Homo sapiens: one gene and its partners. The protein of the gene in region 5 purifies or fractionates together with the protein of the main gene of each other region. This does not show direct contact. Each region holds a gene or a part of one and is shown on either strand. Other genes may lie near its edges.

Region 1 (4,353 bases), about 80 Mb from region 5:
CGCTCCAGGTAGACAACAACCCAGAAGACCTAAACCCTGGTCCAGGAACCTTGGTGAATGTGCTTCATCTCTTTGACCTTGGACTGACTTTCTCAGAAAAGTGTTATGAGAATCAGTTGAGATATGTTTTAAGATTCTTAGGAAGTTTCCGTATAGGACAAAGCAGGCAGGGATAGCTGAATAGCAGGCTGAAGATGCAATATTATTTTGACAAGTTGAAATGATGGCCAAAAACCAATGAGTGATACTGGTCAATTGAACAACTGTCAGGACAACTGAATGGGACTAACGCCAATCAATTGCACAAGAGAAGATAAAAAACAACATTGCTCTGAAGTTCTTACTTTTAAAAAAGAGGAACGAGGTATTTAAAAATAAACATGCCCCTAATGTGAACACAAGTGAAGGTAAAATTTCACCAACTGTGGCTGTCAAATGTAGATGCTAAAACACAGGGTACATTAGAACACATCCAGAAGAGGAAATCTTAGAAACGCCACTCTGTGAGAAAAGAATGTTTGGCCCACAGGGTGACATTAAGGCAAAGATAATAGCTGTTCCCAAACATCTAACGTGGTTTGAATTGTACAAGGAAGAACTGATTCATTTTCTGTTGCTCCAGAAAATAGAACTACACAGGTAAGTAAAAATTACAGGGTAAATACGTGGTAGAAGTTGACAATAAACAGTGTTAAAACAGGGAAGCGCAAACATAAAAACATAAAAACGCTGGTCATTGGAAATGCTAAGTAAATACCAGGTAACTATTGTATAAGCTTTTTAACAGGACAGATTTCCACATTCAGTGTGACTGGATGATGGGTAAAAGAGCAGGTATTTCTGCACTATGCTGGTGAACCTTTGCTGAAAATTACAGGTCACCCTATAGAGCCGAATTGATACATTTTACATATATCATAATGTCTTTTATGAAGCTTCTACACAAACTATAATAACCTTGCCTAACATGTGTCTTTATGTCAACAGAATCGAGGCATGTTTACACTGTCTCATGAAACACTCTGCTTTACCCAGGGACAAAATATAATGTTTACCTAGAAGTTATCCAATGTATGAACCTTACAATTATTGCCATGCGTTTTTTATTGCATTATCACGAACATTCAGAATTATATTTCTTGTTTATTTCACATGCAAGGGTTACTCAGCATGGACATGAAGGCTATAAATAAGACCTGATAGAGAAAGTCCTTTAACAGAACTCATACCTTCTGTGCTTCTTTCTTCACAGAGTTACATTCAGGATTCAGAGCAAGGCAGTAGAGAAATTCCTTTAACACTTCCTTACTTCTTCCCAATCCAGAAAGAGCCTGAGCTTTTACTTGATGTCCCTAGATTCACCGAAGACAAAGTGTACATTTTTAAAACCCAGCATGATTATATACTTGAATACAAACTTCCCTGAACAAATTTATTAGAACAATTTGTTTTAATTTCACATTACATAGAATAAACAAAGCCCATCAAAGGATGACTCTATCGCTACTTTCTCTACCCTGGAAACTTAGCAAACTTCAATAGCTCATAAATACAATCTACAGTCAGAACACAGGAGCTACCGTACCTGAAATGTTCTGCTCAAAGGAGTTCTAAGGGACGTGCTAAGAGAAAACTGGCTATCCACTTTAAATTCATTCAGCAGTTACAGGTCATTACCATCTTCCTGGCTTCCAGGAGTTTACAGTCTCATGAGCTAAGACAGACACGACTAAAAACAATTACAATACAAATCATAATATACTAAGTGCCACAATAAAAGTAAACAAAATACAATATGGATCAGTAATTTCCCATGGCATTTTCTTTTCATCTTATGAATGCAGTATTTTCTCAAATCTATAAAAACACTATTTTTGTTTCTTTTTTTACTGGTTTACATATAGTTGAAAGACTTTCTCTTAGCACTTGAAATATGTTGTTCCAATGTCAACCAGCTTCCACAGTTTCAGATGAGATGACAACCATAAATATTATTTCCCTGTATGTCATTTTTCTCATTCTCATTCCATGTCATTTTTCTTTACTGCTTTCAAGACTTTCCTTTTATCTTTGGTTTACAGCCTAGCCATTTGATTATGACTTGAGTTTATCATTGCTTATAAGTTGAGTTAACCTTCTTGGATCTGAAATTAATGTTTCCCACTAAATTTGGAAACTTTTTACCCATTATTTCTTCTTTTTTTTTCTTGCCAAACATTTTCTGTCTTCTTCTGAGATTCCAATTGCACATACGTTGTACCACTTCATATTGTCCCACAAGTTTCCAAGATTCTTTTTGTTTTTCTTTAATCTTTTTTCTTTCTGTTTTTTGCATTGAATAATTTCTCTTCCTATAGATCTATCTTCAATTTCACTGATTATTTTGCCATGTATAATGTGTTATTAACCCTACCTAGAAATTTTAAATTTCAGCATTGATAATTTTTATCTCTAGAATTTCCTTTTTTTTTCTTTTTTAGAGACAGGGTCTCACCCTGTTGCCCAGGCTAGAACGCAATGGCATGATCACATCTCACTGTGACCCTTAACTCCTGGGTTCAAACAATCTGCCTCAGCCTCCAGAGTAGCTCAGACTACAGGCACATGCCACCCTGCCTGGCTAATTTTTTTGTAGACTTGGGGTCTCGTGATGTTTCCCAGGCTGGTCTTGAACTCCTGGCCTCAAGTGATCCTCCTGCCTCAGCCTCCCAAAGCATTGGGCATACATGCATGAACCATGAACCCAGCCAGAATTTCCATTTTTTATAGTTTCCATCTCCCTGTTGAGATTGCTCTTAAGTCAAAGGTACCATATTGTCCTTCAATTCTTTGCATGCAATTTAACTCTTTGAACTTATGCATAATAACTTCTTCAAAGTCTCTTTGTGGAAAATATAATATCTGGGCCCACTCAGAGACAATTTTAGTTGACTGTTTTTTTTTTTTTTTTGAGACAGAGTCTTGCTCGCTCGTCCAGGCTGGCGTGCAGTGGTACAATCATGGCTCATTGGAACCCCTGCCTCCCAGGTTCAAGTGATTCTCCTGCCTCAGCCTCCTGAGTAGCTGGGACTACAGGCGCCTGCCACCATGCCTGGCTAATTTTTTTTTTTTTTTTTTTTTTAGTTGAGATGGGGTTTCACCATATTGGCCAGGCTAGTCTCAAACTCCTGACCTTGTGATCCACCTGCCTTGGCCTCACCAAGTGCTGGGATTATAGGCGTGAGCCACTGCACCCAGCCTCCATGGCTCCTTTTTAAGCCTTGTGGTTCTCCCTGATGCCTATGAAATTTGGAAATAAGCCAGGATTTGGCCAGAGCTGGGAATCATCCACTCCGGGATTTCTCTGCTTTTAGGGATTCCCCTAATTTCCAGCTCTTCTGTTAGAACTCGGAACTCTGAACTCCTGGTACTTTCACGTAGTGATCCTGAGTGTTTGTCCCAGTACTGTTTTTGTGCAGCTGCAGCTGTGGAGATAGACAGAACTCAGGGACCAAAAAGACAAAACAAAAAACAAACAAACAAAAAACCCACACACAATTCTTTTCCTTTTCATGTGCAGGTTTTTTTAGAAACTCTCCTCCAGCTTCTGTTTTTGGATGTTTTATAGTGTCTTTATTTTTTTTAATACAGTTCTTATAACTGTTTTCCCCTCTGGATTCACATGACGACTTCACTCCTTCACTATTACCAGAAGTAAACCACTACCCCTGTTAATGTCATTTTAATTATTTCTGTATAAAAATTCTCCAGAACATTGGCAGCCACTGATGGGTAAATGTGAAGGTCTATTTTCAGGTCCTGTCTTACTGCACTTCTCTCTCCATTGTTTGAAATACCATGACTGTGCTGATGGTGCCCAGGTTCCATCTCCAGCACCAACATCTCTCCTCATGCTTGCTAACTGTCTATTCACACATTGCTTACCTTGCAGCCCTCTGGAAGAGCAGCCATTTCAAAAGACATGATGAGTACTTTAGACAACAAATCATCAGTTTCATCCCTGAGCTCCCTGAAGTCTCAAATACACTTCAGACAATCAGTGATTCATCTATGGGACTTTACATTGATAATAAATGTGAAGTTTTACTAATTTTCTTATTCTCCTTTCACAAAAGCAGAATCACAAAAGATTCAGCTTTTGTGGAGCCTGAATCTTACATAATTTGGAAAGTCTGTTTAAGGAAAAGTACAAAATTGTTATTATTATTATTTTTTGAGATGGAGTCTCGCTCTGTCGCCCAGGCTGGAGTGAAGTGGTGCCATCTCGGCTCACTGCAACCTCCACCTCCCAGGTTCAAGTGATTCTCCTGCCTCAGCCTCCGGAGTAGCTGGGATTATAGCTGTGCACCACCA
Region 2 (4,353 bases), on a different chromosome or scaffold from region 5:
GCAACCCCTTTAGCCATCAGATTAAAAAAAAATTTTGGTCTCTGCCTTCCTTTATTGCTTAGACATTCCCACTGATTCCCTCTGATGAAGAATTAAGACAAATAATGGAAGAAAAAGGAATTGTAATGGAAATTATCAGACTGGGAGTGAGTCGACCTGGGGCACTCCTCCCCCTCTTGCTCTCCTCTGACACCTCCATCCCTGCCATTCTGACCTGGCTAACTCCTAAGCATCCTTTAAGTTTCAATGTATATGTTATGACATATCCTTATAGAGCCTTTCCTATCACACAGCCCCAACCAAGCACACTTTACTTCCCTCTTCTTAAGGTTCAACATATTTATAATCCACTTCTTTAAAACCTTTCTTTCCCCCATGGGTCTGTAAACTCTTTGAGGGCAGGGACTGGGTCTATTTTGCTTACTATCGTAGCTCCAGTGCCTAGCATGTGGTAAGTCCTAAATACTGTTGAATTAATCAATTAAGCAGGAAACGAAAAGCCAGGTTCACCAAACATTATTACTGTCCTGTTCTGAGTCTGTAGATATCCCGAAGTCTTAGCAACCTAAGTCTAAGAAATACCTTTAGGAATATGATCGATCACTTGGTATGGCAAAGACCAAGGTTTGCCTATCCAATATCTAGTCTCCATGTTATAAGTGAAGGCAATGTCCTTTACAGATAGGGGTATCCGATAAGTGGGTGGGGTTTCCAGGAAAGCCCTTTAGGGTACAGGGGGTGGATTCTACCAGGAAATATGTCCTTTGGCCTTGTCCTTCTTCCTGCTTGGAGCACAGATGTGACAGCTAGAACAGCAGCGATCACTCAGCAGCCCTAAGGCAAACCTGATGGTGGAAGCCAGCACTAAAGATGATGACACCAAAAGAAAGAGGGAGCTTAGGTCTCTGGTGATCACAGAACTGCCATGCCAGCTCTCAGTTACCTAGCTTCAGACTTCTTTCATGTAAGGAAAAAAAAAAAAACCCAAAAACTCTATCTTTAAGTTCCTGGTTTTTTTGTGTTTGTTTGTTTGATGATCTGTTACAATTGAACCTAATCCTAACTGAAATACCCAAGTTTGCTAAAGTGAGTTTCGAGAATGATCTTTAAGCTCGGCGCAGTGGCTCACACCTGTAATCCCAGCCCTTGGGAGTCCAAGGCAGGAGGATCGCTTGAGGTCAGGAGTTTGAGATCAGCCTGGCCAAGATGGCAAAACCCCATCTGTACTAAAAATACAAAAATTATCCGGGTGTGGTGGTGGGCGCCTGTAGCCCCAGCTACTCCAGAGACTGAGGCAGGAGAACGGCTTGAACCCAGGAGGCGGAGGTTGCAGTGAGCTGAGATCGCCCCACTGCACTCCAGCTTGGGCGACAAAGCAAGACTCTGTCTCAATTAAAAAAAAAAAAAAAAAAAAAGATCTTTGAGGTTTGAGGTTTAGAAACAAACCTTCCACAGGTCCTTTGCCTCGTCTGCACTTTCCACTTTGTGTTCTGCTTCTTTCCTGTGAAGGTTCCAAACACACAAGAGCATATGTCCATCTACTGCATTTCCATCCATTGCACAGGTTGTTCCTCTGTGTCTCTGACATTGTCTACTTTGCCTGGCATTCCAGGTGTAAACGGTTAACTAGGGACTCACACATATTAATATATTACCACTGTAGGTACACAGACTCCTGATGTCTTCAAGGGTCTGTAAACTCAGAATCAATCCTCCATAGAATTCTAGCATATTTTAGAGTTATAAAAGAACTCAACACAAATATGCTCAAGTTTGTGTCCTTAACAGTTATCAGATGTTGAATATTTACTTTGTCTGAAGTCTAAAAGATACACAATTTCGTTTCTTTCAGATGATTATGCTGTTTTTATTTCTTACCCTATCTGAGCAGCAGGTTTATTGATTGATTGATTGAGATGCAGTCTCACTCTGTCACCCATGCTGGAGTGCAATGGCACGAGCTCGGCTCACTGCAACCTCTGCCTCCTGGGTTCAAGTGAATTCTCCTGCCTCAGCCTCCCGAGTAGCTGGGATTACAGGCACGCACCACCACGCCCGGCTAATTTTTGTATTTTTAGTAGAGATGGGGTTTCACCATGTTGGCCGGGCTGGTCTTGAACTGCTGACCTCAAGTGATCCACCTGCCTCAGACTCCCAAAGTGCTGGGATTACAGGTGTGAGCCACCACACCCAGCATGAGCAGTAGGTATTTTTGATAAAAGTTTTTCTGTTTGTTTGTGGTTTTTTTTTTTTTTCTGAGACAAGGTCTTGTGCTGTTGCCCAGCCTGGAGTGCAGTGGTGCAATTAAGGTTCACTGTAGTCTCAACCTCCCAGGCTCAAGTGGTCCTCCCACCTCAGCCACCCAAGTAGCTGATACTACAGGTGTGAGCCACTACGCCCAGCTAATTTTCATTCTTTTTTGGGTTTTTTTTTTTTGGTAGAGATGGGGTTTTGCCATGTTGCCCAGGTTGGTCTTGAACTCCTGAGCTCAAGCGATCTGCGCCTCAGCCTCCCAAAGTGCTGAGATTACAGGTGTGAACCACTGTGCCCAGCCTTGAGTTTTTAAAATCTTTTTTATTTCCAACAAAGCACAAATATCTCACTTTCTTTTCTCACAAAGAACTATGCTATATTCTCAGATAGGTCACATAACTTTAATTTGCCTGGCCACTTTGAACTCCCTAAAGCTCAAAGTGCTTTTAGCATCTCACCATTTGTCATTTTAGCAAACACTACATAAGTCAATCCACCCTTTATCCAACCCCAAGCCAAGAAGAAATTTGCTGTTTCATCTGTGTCTCAAGTTGCATGGAATGTTTTCTGGTTGGAAGACTAGTCTGATGCTCATCTTGCTATTCAAAACAAACCCCCTTTCACTACCCTGAGTCACACATGCTACAGTATGAATCATTTCAGTCAGGCATATTCAAAAAGTTGGTAAGTAACAAATTTTAAGGTTTAAAATAGAACATACAACTGCATAAATGACAACATTATAATCACATATAACAATGAGATAAAGACTAAAAGGAAAGGAAAACAGTTACATTAGGCTGGGTGTGGTGGCTCACACTTGTAATCCCAGCACTTTGGGAGGCTGGGGTGGGCAGATCGTTTGAGGTCAGGAGTTCAAGACCAGCCTGGCCAATATGGGGAGACCCCGTCTCTACTGAAAATACAAAAATTAGCCAGACATGCTGGTGCACACCTATAATTCCAGCTACTCAGGAAGCTGAGGCAGGAGAATTGCTTGAACCGAGGAGACGGAGGCTGCAGTGAACTGAGATCACACCATGCACTCCAACCTGGGTGACAGAATGAGACTGTCTCAAAAAAAAAAAAAAAAAAAAAGAAAAGAAAAGAAAACAGTTACATTAAAGTAAAGAATTATAGGTGGAAATATTTTTTATATTACAAAGCTGCCCTAAAGACATATTTTTTAAAAGATATAAATCAACCAATCAAATTTATGAAAGGAAAGCCTAAATATTCAAAACCAAAGTATTGTTTAGAAATTTCAGGAAGAATTTTGTTTGTTTTTTCTGATGGATTATCTTAAAATTCTAGAATAAATTTTCAGGTTTTCCTTAAAGGACCATTTTGTGTGCACAACAGAAACATCAGCCAAAGCTGCCAAGTCCATTTGTAAGACCAATACGGTTGTTTTTTTTTTTTTGAGATGAAGTCTCGCTCTGTCGCCCAGGCTGGAGCGCAGTGGCACGATCTTGGCTCACTGCAACCTCTGCCTCCTGGGTTCAAGTGATTCTCCTGCCTCAGCTTCCTGAGTAGCTGGGATTACAAGGCATGTGCCACCATGCCCAGCTAATTTTTGTATTTTTTGGTAGAGATGGGTTTTGCCATGTTAGCAAGGCTGGTCTTGAACTCCTAACCTCAGGTGATCTGCCTGCCCCAGCCTCCCAAAGTGCTGGGATTATAGGCGTGAGCCACCATGCCTGGCCCAATACTGTTTTTAAGAGACCAGCTGACTTTATTTGCTCATAGGTGTAAATTCATTATTAAAGAAATGAATTTTGGAAGTCAGGCACAGTGGCTCATGCCTGTAATCCCAGCACTCTGGGAGGTTGAGGTGGGCAGATTGCTTGAGGCCAGGAGTTCGGGACCAGCCTGGCCAACATGGCCAAAACCAGTCTCTATTAAAAATACAAAAATTAGGCTGGGCAAGGTGGCTCACACCTGTAATCCCAGCACTTTGGGAGGCCGAGGCAGGTGGATCACGAAGTCAGGAGTTCAAGATCAGCTTGGCCAATATGGTGAAACCCTGTCTCTACTAAAAATACAAAAATTAGCTGAGTGTGGTGGCACAAGCCTGTAGTCCCAGCTACTCAGGAGGCT
Region 3 (4,353 bases), on a different chromosome or scaffold from region 5:
CTGAAGCCACAGGTTCTCTAGGCCTGCCAAAAGCCCTCAAAGAGATTCCATCTTTGGAGTCCAGACTGGGAAAGGGGGCTAGGACACCAGAGCAGAAACCAGCCAGCATAGCTACAGGGTAAAGCTAACCCTGCTGAAGGCTAGGGGCCTGGAGAAAAGATAAGGAAGCTGTTCTAGAAGGCCCTGTAATCCCATCAGGCCTGGCAACAGGACTAACCCATGCCTATGTCTGACTAGAGTCAAGTAAGTGTTTCTGTCTCTAACCAGAACCAGGCGGGATAGGGCTGATTTCCAATAAACAAAGTCTGACCTCCACAGAACAAGACCTTATTTCTTCAAATAAATAAATAAATTCTGACCTTTTTTTTCTCTCTTTTAAAATATATTGCCATTGGGCCCGGCGTGATGGCTCACGGCTGTAATCCCAGCACTTTGGGAAGCTGAGGCAGGGAGATCACATGAGGCCAGGAGCTCGAGACCAGCCTGGCCAACATGGTGAAACCGCATCTCTACTAAAAATATAGAAATCAGCCGGGCGTGGTGGCGTGCACCTGTAATCCCAGCTACTTGGGTGGCTGAGGCACGAGAATCACTTCAACTTAGGAGACAGAGGTCACAGTGAGCTGAGATCATGCCACTGCACTCCAGCTGGGATGACAGAGCAAGACTCTGTCTCAAATAAATAAATATATACATACATACATACATACATTGCCATTGAGAGAGTCTGAGGAAGCAGAAAACAAAACAGATTCCTGCATAAGATTTTGTTTTTTCACCTGTACTGGCACGTCCTCAGAATGCCTATACCACAGCCCTCTTTCTAAAAAGTTCCTTCTATACCAATTGCTGGTGGGCTCTGTGTAGCCTTGCCATCCTGGCATGAATAGCTGGGACCTGGAGCCAGCCTTCCAACAGACAACCAATTTACAGTCTGGCCAGTGGCACAGGGAGTTCGCCAAGCACAAATGTCATGTCCAATAGGCTGCCTCAGCCTCGTTCTGTGATACCTTGAACTTGACTTAGGGAGAAGGCAGAAAACAGATGGAAACAAAAAAGAACCAAGAGAAAAAGAAAAGCAGAATAATGGGCCGGGCATGGTGGCTCACGCCTGTAATCCTAGCACACTGGGAGGCCAAGGCAGGAAGACTGCTTGAGGTCAGGAGTTCAGGAGACTCCCGTCTCTATAAAAGATAAAAAAAAAATCAGAGCGGGAGTGGTGGCTCACGCCTGTACTCCCAGCACTTTGGGAGGCCGAGGCAGGTGGATCATCTGAGGTCAGGAGTTTGAGACCAGCCTAGCCAACATGGTGAAATGCCATCTCTACTAAAAATACAAAAATCAGCCAGGTATGGTGGCACGCACCTGTAATCCCAGCTACTCAGGAGGCTGAGGCAGGAGAATTGCTTGAACCTGGTAGGCGGAGGTTGCAGTGAGCCGAGACGGTGCCACTGCATTCCAGCCTGGGTGACAGAGCAAGAGTCCGTCTCAAAAAAAAAAAAAAAATTAGCCAGGTGTAGTGGTGTCTTCTTGTAGTGGGAGGCTGAGATGGGAGGATTGCCTGAGTCCAGGAGGTTGAAGATGCAGTGAACTATGACTGCATCACTGTACCCCAGCTTGAGTAACAAAGAGAGATCCTGTCTCAAAAAAAAAAAAAAAGAAAGAAAGAAAAGAAAAAGAAAGGAAAGCAGAAATAGGGAAAATCAGCTAAGCCAGAATCATGGGTTCTATGCATGCCTACTGAAGGGAACAAAGAGTCTGATCTGACCACGCACTCAGATCCCCTCAATTTCCTTATTTCCTTCAAATCTTCACAATAAACCCCCCAATTTAATGTAGAAGAAAGTTTTTTTTCTTCTCTTCATTCACTGACAGAAATTGAGCCAACAAGAAAAATAATATCTACTATTGATGAAGGTGCAGAAACACATATTCTTCTCATTCACTGGTAAGCATGTAAACTGGCATTCTTTGCTAACACTATACAACAGATGTCCTTCATGGTGCCTGTCCAAACTGCTACAGTTCTCGGTGGCCTGTGGCCTCCTTGGCTACAGCAGCGACGCAAAAGCCAATCCCCTGGTAGGCTGATGACCAAAAGTCTTGTGAGAAAGGAGACACTGGGGCAATTAGATTCACCTCTCAGAAATGTGTAATCAGGACACAGAGAGACTGAACTGGAAAGGTGTTAAGAGCTAAGCTAGGGACTGAGGTTGCCATTTGAGGCCATGTACAAAGTGAGCAGGCAGAGGAGGCTTGTCTATAGTGAAGTGGAGGAAGCAGAAGAGTGGAACAGGGCAGAAATCTGAAGCTCCTAAGAGAAAATAATAAACAACTTCCTTAATTCTGGGCCACCACCATTTTCTTGAGAGACAGCCACATTTCATTGGCCTGGGGAGCGCTGTATCATTACAATAAATCCTTCTTCACTCGAGCTAGTGTCTGTTCCTTGGAACCAAAAGGGCCTAATCTAGAATAGAAATTGGCAATAAAAACAAAGTTGAAATGTGGAGGGTTGGTGAGCACATGGCTATACATGGACTAGTAGGATGATGTTAGGTAAAGGTAATCCTTGGAAAGTTATGTACTATGTGTACAAATTACAAGCAAACTGTTACATTGCTTACCCAACCCAGTCTTTTCAAGAGTCCACATAAAAGACAAGATGAACAGATTTGTGTCTCTACCAGCAAGATCACCAGACCGGCAATAGACTCCTGACAAGTGCAGTCAAAATAGGTTAAAACAACAGGTGAGCTGGATACAATGGATCACACCTGTAACCCCAGCACTTTGGGAGGCTGAGGCAGAAGGATCACTTGAAGCCAGGATTCAAGACCAGCCTAGGCAATGTAGGGAGACCCTGTCTCTACAAAACATTTAAAATTTAGCCAGGCATGATGGCATGTGCTTGTAGTCCCAACTACTTGGGAGACTGAGGAAAGAGGATCACTTGAGCCCGGGAGGTCCAGGCTGCAGTGAGCCATGATCGAACCACTACACTCCAGCCTGGGCAACAGAGCAAGACCCTGAGGGAAAAAACAAAACAAACAAAACAAAACAAGTAAAAGAGTCACCTAGAGGTACACTCTTAACCGGTTAGTAATCCAGTCATAACATACAAGAATGGTCAGCAGTGGCCATATTGGGCATTATACAAAAATGAGTAAGTGAAGTAGGCTGTAGAGATGGAAGACTGGATATTCAAAAAGAAACAGAAAATAAGGAAACCAGGCAGCCTTTAAGTGACAAACAGAACACTGCCTCTGGCTTAGAAATTCTGGTTCCCTGAAACTTGACTATGCTTTCTTCCTTTGTCTTTGGATGTCTGGAAACTGCAACCTATTTTTTACTTGAGTGAGTTTTTGTTCTTTTTAGTCCAAGGTAAAGACTGGAACCAGACCGGGTGCAGTGGTTCATGCCTGTAATCTCAACACTTTGGGAGGCCAAGGCAGGTGGATCACCTGAGGCCAGGAGTTCCGAGACCAGCCTGGCCAGCATGGCGAAACCCTGTCTCTACTAAAAATACAAAAATCAGCAGGGTGTGAAGGCATGGGCCTGTAATCCCAGCTACTCCAGAGGCTGAGGCAGAAGAATCACTTGAACCCAGGAGTTGGAGGACGCAATGAACTGAGACTGTGCCACTGCACTCCAGCCTGGGCAACACAGCAAGACTCTGTCTCAAAAAAAAAAAAAAAAAAATAAAGACTGGAACCAACAGTAAATAGTGAAAGTATAAAAATAAAAGCGTGTGATGGGGTGGAGGAAATAACATACTTTCAATCCAACAATTCTATATAATGATAAGTTTGCACAAAAATGTAAGTATTAGCACATACAAAGTTTATTTATAAATAGAGAAAAGTTACTATCAGCCTCAATATTCAAAGGTCTGTTAACTAAACCACAATGCATTCATACAGGCAATATTGTGCAGCTATTAGAAGCCACAGAGAAGTACAGGTATCCCTTTCTACCTGAACTCAAGCTCCCTGACTCAGAAACCAAGTAGATTCAGATAGCAAGGGATACCTGTATTCAATGACATGGAAAGATGTTCATGATATATTAAGTGAAAAAAAGGGTTACAAAACAACATATACTTTATTTTTATTAAAAGTAGCATATTTACATATATTTTTGTATACACATAAAAATGAGACTTTCTGTACCATCTGCAATGTTCTTGTCTTTTTGTGATTCTTCTAAATGATAAAAACTCTCCTAAAAAATTAAATACAGGATTTTCTTCCAAAGGCTGCAAGGTAGGATTTGGACACTAAGTCCCGGCTCTACTGGAGGACTAAGCAGTACTGTGGTTAAAAAGGCAAGCAGACAGGAAGGACAAAAGAA
Region 4 (4,353 bases), on a different chromosome or scaffold from region 5:
TTCCAACATTCTGACCTGCTTGAGAAGCTGCCTGCATTGCACTGGGCAGTGCATTTGGTAGCAGACCTCCTGAGGGTAGAAGGCCGCTCAGGTTTATTCCTGCAGGAGTTATGGCACCAGTGTTACAGCCCAGCATGGGGTTTGAACCACTCATCAAAGCCTGGGCCCCACTGCAGGAGAATAAGACAAAGCATTAAACTTCACTGTAAAAGGAAAAAATCAGCCACACAATTCCTCAGATTAAAAAACAAAACTACTAAGCAAACACAACTAGTTATTTATCTGTCTTAAATATCAAAGAAAGTAATGCAGAAGATAAATAGGAAATTCTAAGCTGCTGTCAAGATGAAGTATCAAAAAACAAAAACGATAAGATGAGATATCATCTTAGTGCAGTTAACAGATGTATTATTTAAAATTAAAACATACATGGTCAGGCAGCTTCTGTCCATATCTAAACTATTCCTTTTCAGTCTGAGTAATATGCGGTTTGTTCTTAATTTCACACATTAAGAATTTATTTAGATTGGTGAAACTATCTTTATAAAAAAAAAATCCGAACATCAATGCAAACTTACCAAACAGAGCCCACTACATTGATGAAGTTAAGTCCAGCAGAGTTTGCCATGACCTGGGTGGCCGTGGTTCCTGGAGTTATAGATGTTACCATGGTGGAAAGAGGAATGGTTGTTACAGGCATTGCCTGGCTCAGAGACCTTTGCTGCTGAGCAAACTGAGTTAACAAAGTGGGCTGAGGGGTGAAGCCTGAATCTTGGGGAGTAGGGGTGGCTGAAGGGGTACTAGGAGTTGAGCTCTGAGCATCAGGAGGGTGTGGGGTCGATGAAGGGGTTGGTGTAGGAGTAGATGGCTTAGGAGTTCCAGATCCTGCTCATTGAGAAAAATAAAAATTGCTAGTTTGTTATAAATGGCCAGTCCTTTTAAAATAAGGTTAATGGAATCTTACTTAGCACTGACAATTTGTTCTAGTTTTTTTTTTTTTAGCAGTTAACTGCAAGTGTTAATTTCTACACATGATACATGAGTGTTGCTACACTCAATTACAATTAAGGATGCAGTATATCACCTAAAAATCCCATTAAAGATGCTATTGCAGTAACAGTAAAAATATACAGTTATATTCTACCACAATACCCATTTAAAAGTTAGTTTCCTACATGCTGCCTTTGGCCTAAAAAGTTCAAAACGAATTCAAATTAATTTGTTATTTACGATTTCACTAATTCAAGACTTCATTTAAAAATATTGCTTATTTAGTGTAAAAGTCTGAGATAAACTGTAAACATATTTAATAAGTTACATATGGTTAACAATCATATTTGGCACCTAAATATACATGTTTAATTCCTAACACATCAAGTTTATCCTGACAAACAAATTTACAAAAAACAGTAATAAAGCAAATATCTGAGAGATAATACTGCATCTTTAACAGTAACTGTGTACTTCTGTTTAAATGTAGAATGTATAGAAAATCTGTTGTGAATGAAGTATGCACAGTTTATCAATTTTTTAAAAAACAAAAACAAAAAACAAAAACCAAAAAAGTAAAACCAAAAGCTCTTGAGGTGTTTTCTTTTTTAGCTTTCATGTCCTGCAGAAAGAAAGGAAAGAAATGTGAATGTCCAGAAGCTGTCACTCAACCCTTACTTAAAGTAACAACTGTGTGCAGTAGATTACCATAATCCATACCCACAACATAAGAAGTGTGAATAAGACTTTCAGAAAATTTATATATTTTTCTTTGTGCAAAACAAGAAGGCAGAAAAATTACACCTTTTGAGCTATCGAGATGAAGATGTTTATATCTAATGCGAAGACCACCCTATCACTGTGCAGTGTACTAAAACTTTCAGCATATATTAGCTATCTATAAAAAATCTAAAAAACTGGAATGACTTTTTTCCCCAAATTGGTACTTTCAGATATTTACTAATTTGAAGAAATTCTCCCAAACTAATGCTAGCATTCTTGTATAACTCTTCTTGATGTTAAAAAAAAGTATTCAGTAGTAAAAATTACATTTCAGTATCTTCAGAATAATGCTTTATGATTATCATCACATTTTAGTAACTGACAACAATTTATAAAAGAGTGTAGGAGTGTTTTTGAAATATTGTTTTTCAGTTTATTGTATCACCACCTTGGAACTAGTTGACTTCTTACATATACACAAAGATAGGACCTGCAGCAACAACTCTTATGACATTTTTTTCATATCAGCCACACAATTTACATAAATATGCAAAATGATCCTAGGGTACACTGGAATAAAAAATATTTTGAAATCTTATTGCCACATGTAACTACCAGGTTATTTTTTTAAGGAGATGTGTAGGTTGTAAGCCTATAAGAAAGGTACACGCAGAATGTATACACAGATACAGAAAAACAAGTACAATTACAATAGAGACATAATACATACAATCAACAAGAGCTCTGCCTGAAGCTTCTAGCAACTTATACATTTTGGGTACACAGTACATTCAGATATCACTACTTCACAGGTTGAAAAAAGCTGTCTTAAGAAACACTAATGCAAAAGCTTATGAAGATTTAATGAAGAATTTAAGTTATGACTCACTTTGTGATGAGCTGGCAGGTGATAGGGCAGCTGGAGAAAGCATGCTAACTTGATTGAGATCCACAGATGATTTCCGAGGAATACTTGATGGCTTAGAAGAAGGAGGAGGAGTTGGAGATTTGAGAAAGCTGCTTGTCTGTTGTGGTGTAAAATAGTTACCTAGAAGAACATAAAAGTTATTTCCTAAATTTATAATTCAAACTTCTGTGAACTGTAGAAATCAAAATGGGGCAAAGTTTTAAAAAGAGATTATGATTATATAATATTTGTTATTCTAGACTGCAAAAAACTAAGAAATGTAATACCTGAGGAACTATTTCCTGAGCTTGAGGGAAGTTTGATTGGTGGGGGTCGATGTTTTACACCCTTCCCCAATACCGAAGACTGAACTGACACGGTTTCAGTTTGCTAAAAGACAATGACATTAAGCTTACTTGTTAAAATTAATACTGCTATAAACCCCAGATGATATTTATATTTAACTTCATAGTTTATTAAATAAAATTAATACTGCTATAAATCCCAGATTTTTAACTCTGCAAAGTGCTCTTAGTGGTTACAGATTGAATACTATATGTATTACAGAGAAAATTTCACATGAGATTCATGAAATATATTACAGTACACATAAAGAATGAGGAAAAGATTTCTGAGTAATAGGGTGGGAAGAGAGAGTTTTAGGGAGAAAGGCAGAGGAGTAAGATGAAAGCAAGCTTCCACTCTTCCATACTTATCTATTAAAGGAAAATAACAGCTGTTGAAGCCAAATGACTAGAACACAGGTGTTCACTGTAATTTTCCTTTTATCTTTGTGTACATTTAAAAATCATGTTATAAAGAGTTAAATAATTTTAAAAAAAGGTAAAAGTAGAAACAAAACTAAACTGTACCCCCGCTCCTCAAAAAATGATTCTTTTTTTTTTTTGAGATGGAGTCTTGCTCTGTTGCCCAGGCTGGAGTGCAGTGGCGCTATCTCGGCTCACTGAAACCTCCACCTCCGGGGTTCAAGAGATTCTCCTGTCTCAGCCTCCCGAGTGGCTGGGATTACAGGTGTGTGCCACCATGCCCAGCTAATTTTTGTGTTTTTAGTAGAGATGGGGTTTCACACTATTGGTCAGGCTGGTCTCGAACTCCCGACCTCAGGTGATCCACCCACCTTGGCCTCCCAAAGTGTTGGGATTACAGGCATGAGCCACTGTGCCTAGCCTCCAAAAATGATTCTTAACATTTCTCAGATTACTTGTGAAACAACTGGGCACAAAGAAGTAACATTAATGAAACACACATCTGTTTCTTTCCCTGGAGAAACCTGACTCAGACTGGCTGAGCCACTGGAGCTGTGTGACATCTTGACCGGACATTTGGCTTCATTCTGGACTAATTCTTGGTACTGATTGACTACCCTAAAATATCAGGAGAAAACAGGTAAAGATTAGAAAACCTGTTTTAAACACAAATTTATTTTATAGGAAAGAATAATGACTATTAATGGCAAAAAGAAAGTTCTATCAAAATTAACATAAATATTAAAAATTAGGCAATTTATCTTTGTATTAAAAGTACATATTTTTAAACTGTTCAATGACAAATTGTCCAAAACATTGTGCTAAATAACAATCTAAAGATATACTTTCAATATCTTATTTCTAATACAGAAATTACAGGGATTACTTAAGTAATAAGCAGCCAAAGAAAATACTCAATTCCTTTCTTAGATTCTGATTAAAGTACTATCTAGAAATCATCTTCCT
Region 5 (3,634 bases):
TGTCCAGAGAGTCCAGACCACTGAGGAGGTGGCGTCCACAGTGGATGAATACACAACGGGCAGGCCAGGTTCTGCCAGTGACCCCAAGCAGAGCACCAGCCCCTGTGGCCACCTACCCCGCTGTGCCCTCTGCTCCTATGTCACTTGACCCAAAGCAGGTGGGGAGCAGGAGGCAGGGAGCCAGCATCAGGGTGCAGAAAGGGCAGGGAGGGGACAAAGCCCAGAGGAGAGCTGGAGCCACCTCTCGGAGGAAGACCTGGCCCCATCCCCTCCCCACTCCTACTGAGACCTTCCGCTGCAGTCAGCAAGGGATGCAGGGCCCGGGGCTGAGTGCTGGGAAGGAGGGGCGGGTGTGAAGGGGGAAGGCAAATGGGTGGAGCCGGTGCTGGAGCTGTCCCAGAGCTGGCTCAGAGCCCTGGGGAGGGAGCTGACCCTCTGAGCCTGGGTTAAGACGGAGGAGGAGGGAGTCAGCTCTCGACCCCAAAACCACCTGTTTCCTCTCACTCTAGCACTGGTGGAGGGGAAGCTGCTCAGGACAGGGCGCCACAGCTGGAGAGGGACGTGATCAGATGCAGGACAGAGCAGACAGGTCCTGGCACGGGCCAGGAGCTGAGACACTCAACACTGATGGCTGCAAACCACCCGCACCATCAGCCGGGGGCTCCCTCAGGGCTGGCTTTGGTGTCTATCAGAAAAGGGTCTGAGGTCCTAGTCCCACCCGCTCAATGCTTCTGCCAGGCAGGACAGGGCCAAGGAGCAATAGTGGTTGCATTTCCTTTAAAACTACTGTTTCATTAAAAAACAAAACAAAACAAAACAAAAAACTAGCTCTGAACATGAAGAATTATATCCAAGAAAGACACCTTGACATTTTTTGCTTTATTAAACATCATTCACTGAGAATTTCCAAAGCACTGTGTGGTGCCTAGACCTGTGTACCAGCGCTCTGGGGGTCGGGAGAAGTCTAAGGCACGGGCCCTGCCCTGGCGCACGGCTCCTTCTCCCTGGGAAGGCAGCTCCACTGGTGAAAGGCCACTGACCAAGTCCAGACCCTGAGGACGACGAAGGCCTCGGGGCAGAAGCCTGAGAGAATCATGCCCCACTGGCAGTGGGAGGCGGTGCAGGCTGGGAGCCCTGCCCAGGCCCCAGGCTGAGCTGTGGGGAAAGCTATGACCCAGTTTGCTGAGAGCTGCAATGACGAACATTGGCTCTGTGCCCAGAGGCCCAAGAAGGCCATGGACTGGGCTGGCCTTTCCTGGGAAAGGGGGAAGGAGGAAGAACTGGGGCCTAGCAGGGCCGTCTATACCCTGGAGAGGCAGGGCCTGACTTCTCCCTTTAGAGCTTGCATCAAGAGGAGGCTCAGGAGAGAGAGACTTGCATCAGAACACTCCAGACAGCCGATCTCCCACTCAGTATTCCTCTCCTGGGAGACCCACCCAGACCCTGCAGGCCCCTGGCAGCCACGAGGAGCAGAGGCCCTGGAGTAATTTGGCTTGGGGACGTCCCCACCCCAGGCCCAGGCCAGTCAGTCACCCAGGCTACAGCTTAGGGTAGGGGAAGGGGAGGATACCGGTCACTCCTTCTTACTATGCGAACAGAGGCAGAGGAGGGATAGAGGCCCAGCCCCAGTTTGGGTCTGTGCTGGGGCTGGCAGAACCCGTGGGCATGAAGCTTCCCTGCCCCATGTGACACCTCGCTACGGCCCCACATGTCTTGCTTCATCCTTGGGGCTGGGCTTCTGGTTGGCAAGGCATCCCCACACCCTCCCTCCCCTTCATGTCCACGGGGAATAAGACACATTGGGCTCTGGCTCCTAGGGTGAGAGCCGCTCCCGCAGCCCGCAGGCTTCTACTTTGGCCCCACAGCCCCGGAGAAAATGGAACCATGCAGTTCTGGGTGCTGTGACCCAGGCTTCTGCCTGGCCTCCCCTGGGGGTGGGGAGGTTCTGACCCTGCAGGGCCCAGTCCCTTCCCTTCACACCGATGTCCCCACAGACAGGCCTGCTGGGCCAGGGGCCAGCATGGAAGGGTCAGAAGAGGCTGGGGGCGGCCTGGGCTGGTGTATCGTGGTCCTGGATGTACTGCAAGATGTCCATCTCGTCCATGGCTTGGATCTGCTCCTGCGGCTTCTGCTGCCCAGCCACAGCTTCAGCCGGGCCCGCTTTGGGGGGAACAGCTGGTTTTCTGGGTATCACCGGCTTAGCTGCCACTGGTGGCTTGGGCTTAAGCTGGGGCTTGGGTTTGGGCTCAGCTCCCAGGTTCAGAATCTGGTCCAAGTCCTCTTCAACTCTAGGGAACCACAGGGAGGAACCCTGAGCATAACACTGCCACCCCGTGACAGGAACAAGACCCCAGGCAATGCCAGTGCCCACACGGGGCTGGGCAGCGGCAGGGAGCCCAGCCTCGGCCAGGTCAAGGCCCCGCCCTGCTCTGCCCCATTCCACTCTGGCCCCTCCACCCATCCTGCCCAGAGGAGACACGAAGGCCAGGGCTCTCCTTCCCTCCCACCCACAGCAAAGCAGGCACAGGGCAGGCCCCACGCAGCCTCCTGAGAGTTGCTCTTCAGGTGACCCCACTTGACACACGCTGCCTTCTGTAGGGGGCTTTCCCTCCAATCCCTTCAGAAATAACCACCAGCTACTATGTACAGAGTTCCCGCTCTGTACAGCACTTCAGACACGTTATCATATCTTATCCTCAAAACGCCACTCTGGGGAGGCATGACTGTGCTTCCATCACGCAGATGAGGACGCTGGAGTCCCAGGAGGCCGAGTGACCTCGAGGGGATGGTATGTGACAGTGCCTTTGTTGGAAGGAACAGGACATCGGCCCTTAGAAGCTGAGCCCTCATCCAAAGCAAGTTCAGCCAGAGAAAGAATAACCAGGGGCGCTGAGCCATGGTGGTACAGGCTTGGCCCGCCCACAGTGCCCCGCTGTGGGCCACACGGGTGCCAGACGGAACCCAGTGAGAGCTGAGGATGGCCTCGGCCAGGGCCCACCAAGACTCTGTCATGACCCCAGACCTCTAATCTCCCACTGGTGGGTGGGCAAAAAGCCCTGGCAGTGTTACGGTCACTCAGGACCATCCCTGGGTACTGAGGGCAAGAAACAGGCCAGGCCACTGATTCTCCAGAACTTGATTTCTGGAGACCAGATGCACAGTGGAAGACTCATTCAATCCATTCCACCCACTCAGCTCTGTGCTGAACACCCGTGATGGCCAGACATTTCCACATTCATTAACCCATTCAATAATCTCCAAACACTGTGTGGTCGCAGAGATTAGCCCCGTTTTACAGCTGAGAATACTGAGGTGCAGAGAGGCAAAGGGCCTTGCCCTGAGACCCACAGCTAGTGTGAGGATGAACAGGACTTGGCCTGCATGTGGCTGGTTCTCTGGGGTGTGTTCCCCTGGCTGGGGCACCTAGACTCCAGTGTCACGGCGAGGTTTTCCCTTGTGCTAACGGGCATCTCTACGTCTATCGCTCAGCCATGCTGGAATCAGGTGAGTGAAGGCAGAAGACCTGTAGCACCCACTTGGTCTCTACAAGCTTCGGCTTCCTCATCTACAAGCAGGAGTAACAGTGTCACTGGCACTGCTGCACGGAACTGTACACAGAAGCACAGCACTGCAG
Region 6 (4,353 bases), on a different chromosome or scaffold from region 5:
GCCTTGGGCTGGGGTCCTGCACAGTTGATGGTCACAGGGTTGTGAGCCCATGCTGGTCAGAAGCCTATGATTGGTACATAGGGATTTTTTTCTATGAAAGGAAAATAGGAAATTAAATGATTGCTTAATAAACACAGCTTGCTTGGTAGAAACAAATCTTTTTAAAAATGGGGTTCCTGGGGAAATATATGGGAGAAGGCAGCAGCATTGAGGAGGCTCAAAATTACTGCTTGAGCTCTCCGAATCTCCAGGGACTGCGACCTAATAGGTCCTTAGTCAGTAGTCAGCATTTGCTAAGACTGACAGAGAGGATGGTGCCGTGCCCCGAGGGGGTGCCTCCGGGCTCTGTGCATTCAGCTGCAAGAGCCTCTGTGTCCCTGTGGCCTCACCGGGGCTTCCCTCCAAGTGGCACTGCCTGGTGTCCGTGTCTGATGGGGTCTGTTGAAACTGTGGGTGGGGTAGGCCCTGGGAGTTGGGAGAGGTGGTTCTGGTGCTTGGGAATCCTGGTGAAGCTGAGAACAGTTGCCCATCTTGCCTCAGAGCCTGACATGGTAATCCTGTTTGTTTGATTCATCCATTTAACAAAATGGCACAGACCCCTGCTGTGTGCCAGGGGGTACCAGAAGCCAGTCAAGCAAGATGCAGTTTTTGTTCTCAGCACGCTCAGTTTTAGTCTGGAGGAGAGATCGCTGATGTGTCTGATGGAACCCGAGGCCAAGTTATCACTGCTGTTCATTTCAACGTTTTACGAGCGCTCACCATTTACCCAGCCCTCTGCAGAGCAGAGCTGTGGGCAGCCAGAGACGTGTGTGTGGACACTGTCACGGCCACAGGGAGCTCCCAGTCTAATTGGGGAAATGGACATGAGAAGAGAGGATTGTGCTGTTGGGCAGCAGCAGGGGCTGGAACAGAGGCGTGTGCGCAGTGCGACCCACAGGGACCCGCTCACTGCTCCCCGGGGTGGGCAGTGGACCTTTCTGCTTTGGGAAGCTCAACAGGCATTGTAATGCTGCCATGAGCCATGGCCTGAACCGTGCAGGCAGAACCTGGCTCTCTGGCCATTGCCACTGCTGTTGGGGAGTCCCTGAAGGACACGGGTATGGAGGGGAGGATTCAGCTGTAATCTCGGAGCACCCACATCCAGCCTCTGGCCCTTGATGACCTGGGGGACATAACTGTGAGCCTTACAAGCTATCTCTGCCCACATGGTCAGGGTGGGCCCTTGGCGGGCTTAGTGTGTTCTTGGATGATTTATTTCCTTGACTCTTCAGGGCTCTTGAGAATCTTGCAGTTGGTTTTCGGTCACAGTTGCTTTGCAAAAACTGAACTGCTGAACAGAGTGGCCTGACTCTCTTTACCCTGTCTCCCTCTCCCCAGCCTGGAATGGGCCTGGCTGCCCACGGCACACGTGGCAAGGGCCCCTCCTTGTGCCTTGGGGCTCCTGAGCAGCTTTCCTAGGAGGAAGAACCTCGACCCCCCAGCTATATCTTTATGGGATCCTGGCCTGGACTGAGGACAAAGCCAGGGGCCACGGGGTACCCCAAGCTGCCCATTTTCCTGGGAAGGGCACAGTGGCCCTGACCGGAGCTGTCATTTTCGGCTGGGGTTGGTCAGTCCTGCCCTCCTTGCCGTGGCTGCTGTCAGCACATGTCATTCATGTCGTAACCATTCGTGGGGCTCCTTCCTGCGGCAGCGTGGCGGGGCTGAGGCCATGCACACCAATCCGAGCTGGGCTCGGGCGCCCTGCTGAGGACACCAAGCAGCCACGTTGCCTGTGCTCCAGCAGCTCCGAGGTCTCTTCCTGGAAGTCTGTTGGGTGTCATCCTGCAGCTCAGAGCCAGGGAAATGGCAGTGGGGAGGGGGCTTCCTGGGGTGACAGCAAAGCTCTGTGTCCACAGGCAGGCAGGACGCATGCTGCAGCCCTGTGGGGTGGGCACGGTGGAAGCCTTCCTCTGTGTGGCAGAAAATGTGTCTCAGATCTCTGGGAACTGGGACAGGAAAGTTCCCAGAGGGGCATGTATGGGGAGGCTACAGAAAGTGTCCCCCCATTTCATGTTTGTGATAGCAGCTCAGGACAGACAAACACCAAGAGGGTGGCCTTGGGCAGCAGCCAGTGAGGAGAGGCAAGATGGGGTTAAGCTTCGCACATTGAGGGCTGGGCACAGTGGCTCACACCTGTAATCCCAGCCCTTTGGGGGGTTGAGGCGGCGGATCACTTGAGGCCAGGATTTCGAGACCAGCCTGGCCAACATGGTGAAACCCTGTTTTTACTAAAAGTACAAAAATTAGCCAGGCGTGGTGGTGGGTGCCTGTAATCCCAGCTACTCGGGAGGCTGACAGGAGAATCGCTTGAACCCGGAAGGCGGAGCTTGCAATGAGCCAAGATCGCGTCACTGCACTCCAGCCTGGACGACAGAGTGAGACTTTGTCTTTAAAAAAAAAAAAAAAAAAAAAAAAAGTTTGGCGCAGCCAGCCTTGGGGGTTGCTTTCAGATAGGAGAGGTGGTGGGAGCCCTCTCCCCCGGGGCAGCCTCTGTCTGAGGACAGTCACAGGTGGGTGGGACAGCGGGTGAAGGGGTTAGTGACAGGGCTCATACTGGCCCTGCCACAAATCCGCAGCGTAACTTCCAACAGGGTGTTTCTGGCCTTCATTTTCCCCATCTGGAAAATAAGGGTGTGGGGGAGGGGAGCCTCGGGATCCCATAAACGCTCACCATCTGGAGGCCTGGGGCCCGTTCTAGGTGGACGAGTCCCAGCCTGCACTCAACCACAGAGGCAGGGGCAAGATGCCTGACTCCAGCTGGGGAGGAGGGGTGGTGGAGCCAGTCCCACGAGGGCTCACGGGCCACCCTGCAGCCTGGGTTGTGGGGAGGAGGAGAGGATGCCCAGACACTGAACATCTTCACATCTGCAGGTGACCGGTTAAGGCAATTCGCCCCAGCTCAGGTCAGGAGATGCCCTGAAGGTGGTCTGATACCAGTCAGCCAGCCTGCCCTGCTGGTCCCTTGTTAGAGAGTCTCTTCTGAAGTGGCCTTTCCTGCCTTGGATAGACTGACATAAAGGCTGGACAGTGAGCTCATTTCTTCATCTTCCTTGATTCCCCCTCCCTGTGCTCGAAATGTCTCCCCAGTTCCCCACATTTGCGTGGGTCAGGACACGCTCGCTGCAAAGAACAAGCCGGCTGAGCACAAAAGGGAGTTTTATTGGGAGGACCCTGGGGGGGGGTCTCCTAGAGCCCAAGGTCATGGGTGCAGCCAGGCTCAGGAAGGGCCTGGCCATCTCTGAGAGCTGGACAGGGGCAGGGCCCTCCTTCCTCCTGGCTCTGTGCGTGTCCAGGTCTCGGTATTCTGCTCTCTTGCTGCTGCTTGACCCCTGTGGTCAGCCAGTGTGAGATCTGCTCCAGGCCTCATCTGTCGGTCCCCAACCCCCTTTCCGAGCCTGTCTGCTCAGCATTGTGAAGTCTCTCACCCGAGGCCCTGTCCACAGGCAGAACGTGGACATTCAGCCCAGCTCCACCTGCCCGGGTTCTCTCTGCGCTGCCACCTGTGCACACCATGGAGGCCGTACGAACCCTGGGCAGCTCTGTCCCGCTGCTAAGTGTCGGGCCACTAAGAAACCCTGAATTCTTGGTTGGTCTGCTGTTGCTAAGCCACATCCCCCCCTACCCTGGCATGTGTCGCTTCTTGTTAGACCCAAGCACAGGTCCTTGTGTTCAATCCCAGTTCATCCTTGTGGATCCACATTTTCATCCTAGAATCCACTTTCACCATTCCCAATCACTGTCGTCTATCATGAGAAGGTCTGGCATGCAAGCCTTTTGTGTCTTTATACCAGCTACTGCTCTAACTTTAATGGAAAGGGCTGGCTGGGGAGGATAAGGCCCAGCGTCCCTCTGGCTGACACTGCTGTCACCATTGGTCCCTGTGGGGTGATTTCAACCAGCTCCTTGCTGGCTGTCCTGGAACTTAGCCCACATACTCCACCACCTTGTCCTCGGGGGTATTGGAAGATACTTTTCCTGGGGGAACCTGAGGAAGTTCTGTTTAGTTCACAAATATTTTCTGTCCCAGGTTCCACACCAAAGCTGGGGGGCCAGACATACTGCCTGGTGTGCATGGTCTTACGGGAGCACCTGGACAGACCGATGCACTTGCTGAATCTTGGTGGGTTAGGGGAGCAGGAGTGAAAAGCGGTGGTGGTGGGGCGGTGGCCAGTGAAAGGCTTCAGAGAGAGATCTGAACAGGGCTTGAAGGAACAAGGGGAGTTTGCCAGGCAGACAGCGTGGGGGTGGGGGTGAAGGAGAGAGTGAGGCTGTGCACAGGGCAGATCGGGCTGGGGTGGGATGTGTGCCGTT
Region 7 (4,881 bases), on a different chromosome or scaffold from region 5:
AATGTCTGTTCTCAATTATTCTCCCACCTCAGAGGTAGGAAACCATTTTCTCTCAGAACTTGGAAGACACTGCTACACTGCCTTTTCTTCTTCTAGTGTTCTTAATACTAATAAATGGCAACTCCATTCTTTCAATAGCTGAGGCAAAAACCGACTAGGCCTTCTTGTATTATTGTTCTTTCGGCCGTATTTCTTCCTCAGTACTTATGACTCACTATTCTATATTATGATTTCTACTGTTACTGTCTCTTCCCCTTTACAAAAGAGTTATTTGAGGGCAGGGGACTGCTGTATTTATCTGACTCTACAGCACCTAACAGAGTACTTGTTGCATAATTTATATAAATAAACAGTGAAATTTAAACTATTAAAGAAGTTTCAAGCAGGAACAGATCGCTCTACAGAAAAACATTTTGAAGTAGAAAGTATCTTTCAGCTAGATTTCCACTGGTTCCTTAGCATTGATCCAGATAGGTTAGTTTATACCTTGGTAATAAGTCCAAAATCCCGGTGGTGTTTCACTTCTTGCTCAACCTACCTGTCAAGCATAGGTCACCTGGAAGCTAGCTCTGGGGCCTTGACTGATGGGTGGCTGCCATTTGCAGCCCCAACAGCTACCATGACAGAAGGAAAGAGAATGGAAAACTACACAACAGAAATTTGTACCATGAAAGGCTACACAGTATTCCCACGCATTTCACTGACCAAAAGCAACTCTTAAGGCCATACCTAACTTCAAAGAAGCAAGCAAGTAAAATTCTACTACATGCTCAAGAGACAGAAACCAAAAATACCTGGTAAGACTGATGACTATCACATGCTTAAAGAGAAGCCTCTCATTCTGAGTAACAATATTTTAATTCTTGATCTCCATTCTCCATCTGTGAAAATGAACTACCGTGCTAGAACCATACACTTGCAGAGTACTATCTATGGGTCTTAGGAATGTCACTTCACCAGTTAGGTTTGCCCCTTCCATCACTCAGCAGTCAGCAGCAAAGCCATATATGGGTGACAGGAAAGTGCTAGTAACATTCAATGTCAAGAGTAAGGGAAAGGCTTGAATGGGCAAGAAAAGCACGTTCAATCATGTAGAAGTGGGGAAAGGAGGGAAGCCTTCAGCAAATTTCTTTCACCAAAGGTATTGGGGGCAGCTAGGCCTTGGGGTTCCTTGCACTATTCCTTGTCTGAAATCAAATTTTATTCAAACCACTTGATAGAAGATTTGGAGTTCGGGTATGATCAGTAAAGTGAGCCAGCATACTTCTTTGAACATAGAATCACTACCTTTAAAAGAATAAATAAAAAGCACATGGCCATGCTACTAAAAACAAGAAAGGCAGCATTTAAGAGACAGATTCTAAGGTAGAGATGATTTTTTTCCCCCTAAAGATCTCAACAGACTCAAATCCAAATTCCTAAGCTCAAGATGATCTGGGATAAACCTCAAGTCCACACAGAGCCTAGATTTAACGGATGGCTGTTCTAAAGTATCCTATGCAATGTCTATACAAGTTCAAATACTTTCTGCTTCAGACAGTGAAACTGGCAGAAATGTTGCAAAGGATTGGAGATGCGTTACTATAAGCAGTTAAACTTGGAACTGTAAAGCCCACAAGGAATTACACTGAAGGGCAGAGCAGGAGTTCAAAAATGTCACCTGACAGATTCGAAGCAATTTAGGACTCCTAAATGCAATGTTTCATTGGTATCTACCCCCCACCTTCTCTATCCTTTATTTGTTCAACAAACATATACTGGATTCTGGGTTGTGGAAAGGAATGCAGGGAAGTAAAAAAGAAACAGGTTTCTAAGAATCAGTTTCTTGTTCTCCAATAATTTGGTCTAGTTAAAGCAAACAAACAACCCCAAAAATCAGATCAGCAAGCAAAGTTAAAACATATGCCTTAAGTACCATAACAAGAATATAAGAAAACTGTTTTAACATGTAGATTGGCAACCTCCTTTCAAGGGAACAATATATTTGCTTTGCTATGTGGCTAGAATAAGAAAAAGCAAACAACAACAAAACCCTCTCCTGTTTTAATGACAGTTTAGCAGTACCAAAGCTCATCGCTCGCATTCCCCCTCTCCCTCTCCTTCTCAAAGGTCTCTGCTGCAACCCCTCCATCATTCCAACCTCCACACTGCGCCGGCGCCCCACACCAGCTCCATCACAAACAATGCCCAGACCAACAAGATCAGCACCAAACGCATAGGGCACAGAAATCGGAAACGGATCTTCCTATATCTAAAGGGGGCGGGGAACGCTCCCCACGATCACCCCCTCCCCATACTGAGGTAGCTTGGGACTGTGTCTCTACGGTAAGGGGCCTGGCGTCCGCCGCTTTCGGAGGTTCTAGGCCTCTTTCCCCTATTTATCCAGTTTTTCCTCCTGCGTCCCTAATACCTCTACTTCCTCCCAACCCGAGCTCCCTATTGTGGAGTGAGGGGGCGTCGCGATGCAGGCTGAGGCAGGGGGAGCTGGGGAAACGCGCGACAGGGGAGATGCTGTCATTATGTACGTAGGGGGCGGGGGACACTCTTTAAGGAAGCCGTTGTCAAGGGCAAAGGCTCTAGAGACCCACGGGAGGGGGCTTTCTAGGTAATCCATTTGGGGGTTCTACACGAGGGAGCTATTGTGTGTGTGGAGGTGTGAGGTCTGTAGAGTAGCAGTTTCTGAGGGAAACATTCCCTGGGGAAGGCGAGTGAGTTATTCATAGGGAAGCCTCTGTGGGGTTCTGTGTAGAAGAATCCTTCCTGGGAGAAACGTTCTATGGGGGTGAGGACGTCATAACAGTGTCTTCACAGGGAATCGCTGTCCCTAGGGAAGCCATTGTGGGGAAACCGTTGCAGGGTTGTCTGTGGGGGAGCCATTGTGGGGAAACCGTTGCGGGGTTGTCCAAAGGGGAGCCATTGTGGGGCCTCTACAGAGGGCGCCGTTCCTGGGAAAAATTCCTCCCTGAGCCGTTCAGCAAAGAACCGTCCCGAGGAAGCCATGTCGGACCACGCCCTGCGGCGGGAGGCGTCGCCGGACCCCGACAGCCCGCATCCCCCGCCCGGCCGCCCCTCGGCTGCCTCTGCCCCGCGTACCTGACGGAGGGTGACCCGCGGCTGGAGCCGCCAGGGGACCGAGCGCGGGGCAGCCCCTGCCGGCGCGGGGGGTACACGTCCATGGCGGCGGACGACTGGCGGCGGAGGAGGACGGTGCAGCTGCGAGGGTCTCAGTTGCCCGCAGGGCGGCTCCACGCTAGCTGCGGCCGGGCGGGGCGGCAGGGCGTGCCGGGTGGGAGGGGGCGCGGCGCGCGGGCCCGGCGGGGGCGGGGGCGGGGGCGTGGAGGGGGCGCGCGCACCGAGAGCGGATGGGGGCGTTGGGAGCGGCTGGAGTTGGGGGTCGGCGCACGGCCACAGGGACCCCACTTCTTAAGCTGCGAGGCCGCCGGACCGGATGTTGGGAGCGCGTGTCCGCAGGGTGAGGGTTGCCACAGCGCCGCCCGGCCTCGTCCTCAAGCCCGGCATCATAGAGCGGGGCTCTGCGCGGCGCCCCCCGGCCACGCACACGGACGCGCCCGGGGGCGGAGCCTCTCCCAGCCCGGCCCCGCCCCTCCGCCTCTGCCCGCCCCGCCCCGCCCGACCAGCCCCGGCCTCCAGCGAAGTCTTCCGCTCCGGCGTCAGGATCCAGCGCACCTCCCCAGTACCCAGCGCACCTCCCCAGTACCCGGCTCGCTTCCCTGTTCTCCGGAACGGTGTCTTCCCGCTTCCTGGTCATCAATTCCGCACCCACCCTTCAAACATCCAATAGATTCCTAGCCGGCCTCGGGTTAGCGCAGCAGTGCGCACCCAGCCCTGCGCAGGGCATGAGCGTTAGAGGCGCACAGGATCCCAGAAGACCCCTAACCTTTACTGTTAAGATCCTAGCTCTACCGGTTTCTGCAGGGACATGTACAAGAAACTTGGGAAATACTGCACTGATAGTTGCCAGGAGTCCTGTATATACAGGACGTATTTAATGATTATTGGCCTGCGTCCTTCGTTGACCTCGTCGGAATGCCTTAAATGTCCTGTATTCATCTTTTTACACTAAATTGCAATAATTAGAGCTATTTTTCTCCCACAGTAATTGGTGCTAGATCACTTAAATTACAACACTGGCTGAAAATCCTTCCTACACTAATGAAGATTTGGACAATCCCTATGGTGTCTCCTTCAGGTTTGGCTGAGGGAAGACCAGAAGGGAGTAGGAATTTAAAGTGCTCGTCTTTCATATTCAAGAAAGGAAAATACTTTTTTAGCTCAAGTCCGGAGTCGTGAACAAATAACCACCATTATTTAGAGATAACTTCTCGTCGGTGCAGCAGCTCTGAAAATCAGCCAATCAGCGATAGCCTCACTCCGGTAACTATGCTTCTTAGTAAATCAATGACAACCCCACGCTTCTGAAAGTCAGCCAATCAGTGACCGCTCTAAGCCTCCGACAATAGCCAATCAACAAGTGCCTGACACCAGCGACCAGGCTTCCGAAAGTCAGTGGGTACTCAGCTGCCGCACTCCACTTCTGATTCGGAAAGACAGCCAATCCCTGAAGGCGAATATTTCCAAAACCATTTTTTTTTCTTTCCCAGACTGAGTCTCATTCTGTCGCCCAGGCTGGAGTGCAGTGGCGCGATCTCGGCTCACTGCAACCTCTGCCTCCCGGTTCAAGCGATTCTCCTACCTCAGCCTACCGAGTAGCTGGGATTACAGGCTCCCGCCACCACGCCTGGCTCATTTTTGTATTTTTAGTAGAGACGGGTTTTGCCATGTTGGCCAGACTGGTCTCAAACTCCTGACCTCAGTTGATCCGCCTGCCTTGGCCTCCCAAAGTGCTGGGATTACAGGCCT

Evidence for each region.
Region 1: the proteins of HS1BP3 (region 5) and LONRF2 purify together in Homo sapiens (affinity purification with mass spectrometry; one large-scale study listed by BioGRID and IntAct). This does not show direct contact.
Region 2: the proteins of HS1BP3 (region 5) and DSTYK purify together in Homo sapiens (affinity purification with mass spectrometry; one large-scale study listed by BioGRID and IntAct). This does not show direct contact.
Region 3: the proteins of HS1BP3 (region 5) and IREB2 purify together in Homo sapiens (affinity purification with mass spectrometry; one large-scale study listed by BioGRID and IntAct). This does not show direct contact.
Region 4: the proteins of HS1BP3 (region 5) and SUPT20H purify together in Homo sapiens (affinity purification with mass spectrometry; one large-scale study listed by BioGRID and IntAct). This does not show direct contact.
Region 6: the proteins of HS1BP3 (region 5) and VGLL4 purify together in Homo sapiens (co-immunoprecipitation; one large-scale study listed by IntAct). This does not show direct contact.
Region 7: the proteins of HS1BP3 (region 5) and DNAAF9 purify together in Homo sapiens (affinity purification with mass spectrometry; one large-scale study listed by BioGRID and IntAct). This does not show direct contact.

What each region holds. Positions count from the first base shown.
Region 1 is NC_000002.12:100,301,692-100,306,044, forward strand, and holds part of LONRF2 (LON peptidase N-terminal domain and RING finger protein 2), read right to left. Parts: intron 1,353-4,353; coding exon 1,230-1,352; intron 1-1,229.
Region 2 is NC_000001.11:205,170,061-205,174,413, forward strand, and holds part of DSTYK (dual serine/threonine and tyrosine protein kinase), read right to left. Parts: intron 1,502-4,353; coding exon of another isoform or gene 1,447-1,501; intron 1-1,446. UniProt on the Homo sapiens protein: Acts as a positive regulator of ERK phosphorylation downstream of fibroblast growth factor-receptor activation. Involved in the regulation of both caspase-dependent apoptosis and caspase-independent cell death.
Region 3 is NC_000015.10:78,444,486-78,448,838, reverse strand, and holds part of IREB2 (iron-responsive element-binding protein 2), read right to left. Parts: intron 1-4,353. UniProt on the Homo sapiens protein: RNA-binding protein that binds to iron-responsive elements (IRES), which are stem-loop structures found in the 5'-UTR of ferritin, and delta aminolevulinic acid synthase mRNAs, and in the 3'-UTR of transferrin receptor mRNA.
Region 4 is NC_000013.11:37,021,433-37,025,785, forward strand, and holds part of SUPT20H (transcription factor SPT20 homolog), read right to left. Parts: intron 4,006-4,353; coding exon 3,888-4,005; intron 3,011-3,887; coding exon 2,908-3,010; intron 2,762-2,907; coding exon 2,603-2,761; intron 1,613-2,602; coding exon of another isoform or gene 1,599-1,612; exon of another isoform or gene 1,291-1,598; intron 886-1,290; coding exon of another isoform or gene 649-885; coding exon 579-648; intron 171-578; coding exon 16-170; intron 1-15. UniProt on the Homo sapiens protein: Required for MAP kinase p38 (MAPK11, MAPK12, MAPK13 and/or MAPK14) activation during gastrulation.
Region 5 is NC_000002.12:20,616,958-20,620,591, forward strand, and holds the end of HS1BP3 (HCLS1-binding protein 3), read right to left. Parts: intron 2,289-3,634; coding exon 2,030-2,288; 3' UTR 861-2,029; downstream 1-860. UniProt on the Homo sapiens protein: May be a modulator of IL-2 signaling.
Region 6 is NC_000003.12:11,559,997-11,564,349, reverse strand, and holds part of VGLL4 (transcription cofactor vestigial-like protein 4), read left to right. Parts: exon of another isoform or gene 1-64; coding exon of another isoform or gene 65-91; intron 92-4,353. UniProt on the Homo sapiens protein: May act as a specific coactivator for the mammalian TEFs.
Region 7 is NC_000020.11:3,404,382-3,409,262, forward strand, and holds the start of DNAAF9 (dynein axonemal assembly factor 9), read right to left. Parts: upstream 3,289-4,881; 5' UTR 3,177-3,288; coding exon 3,094-3,176; intron 1-3,093. UniProt on the Homo sapiens protein: May act as an effector for ARL3.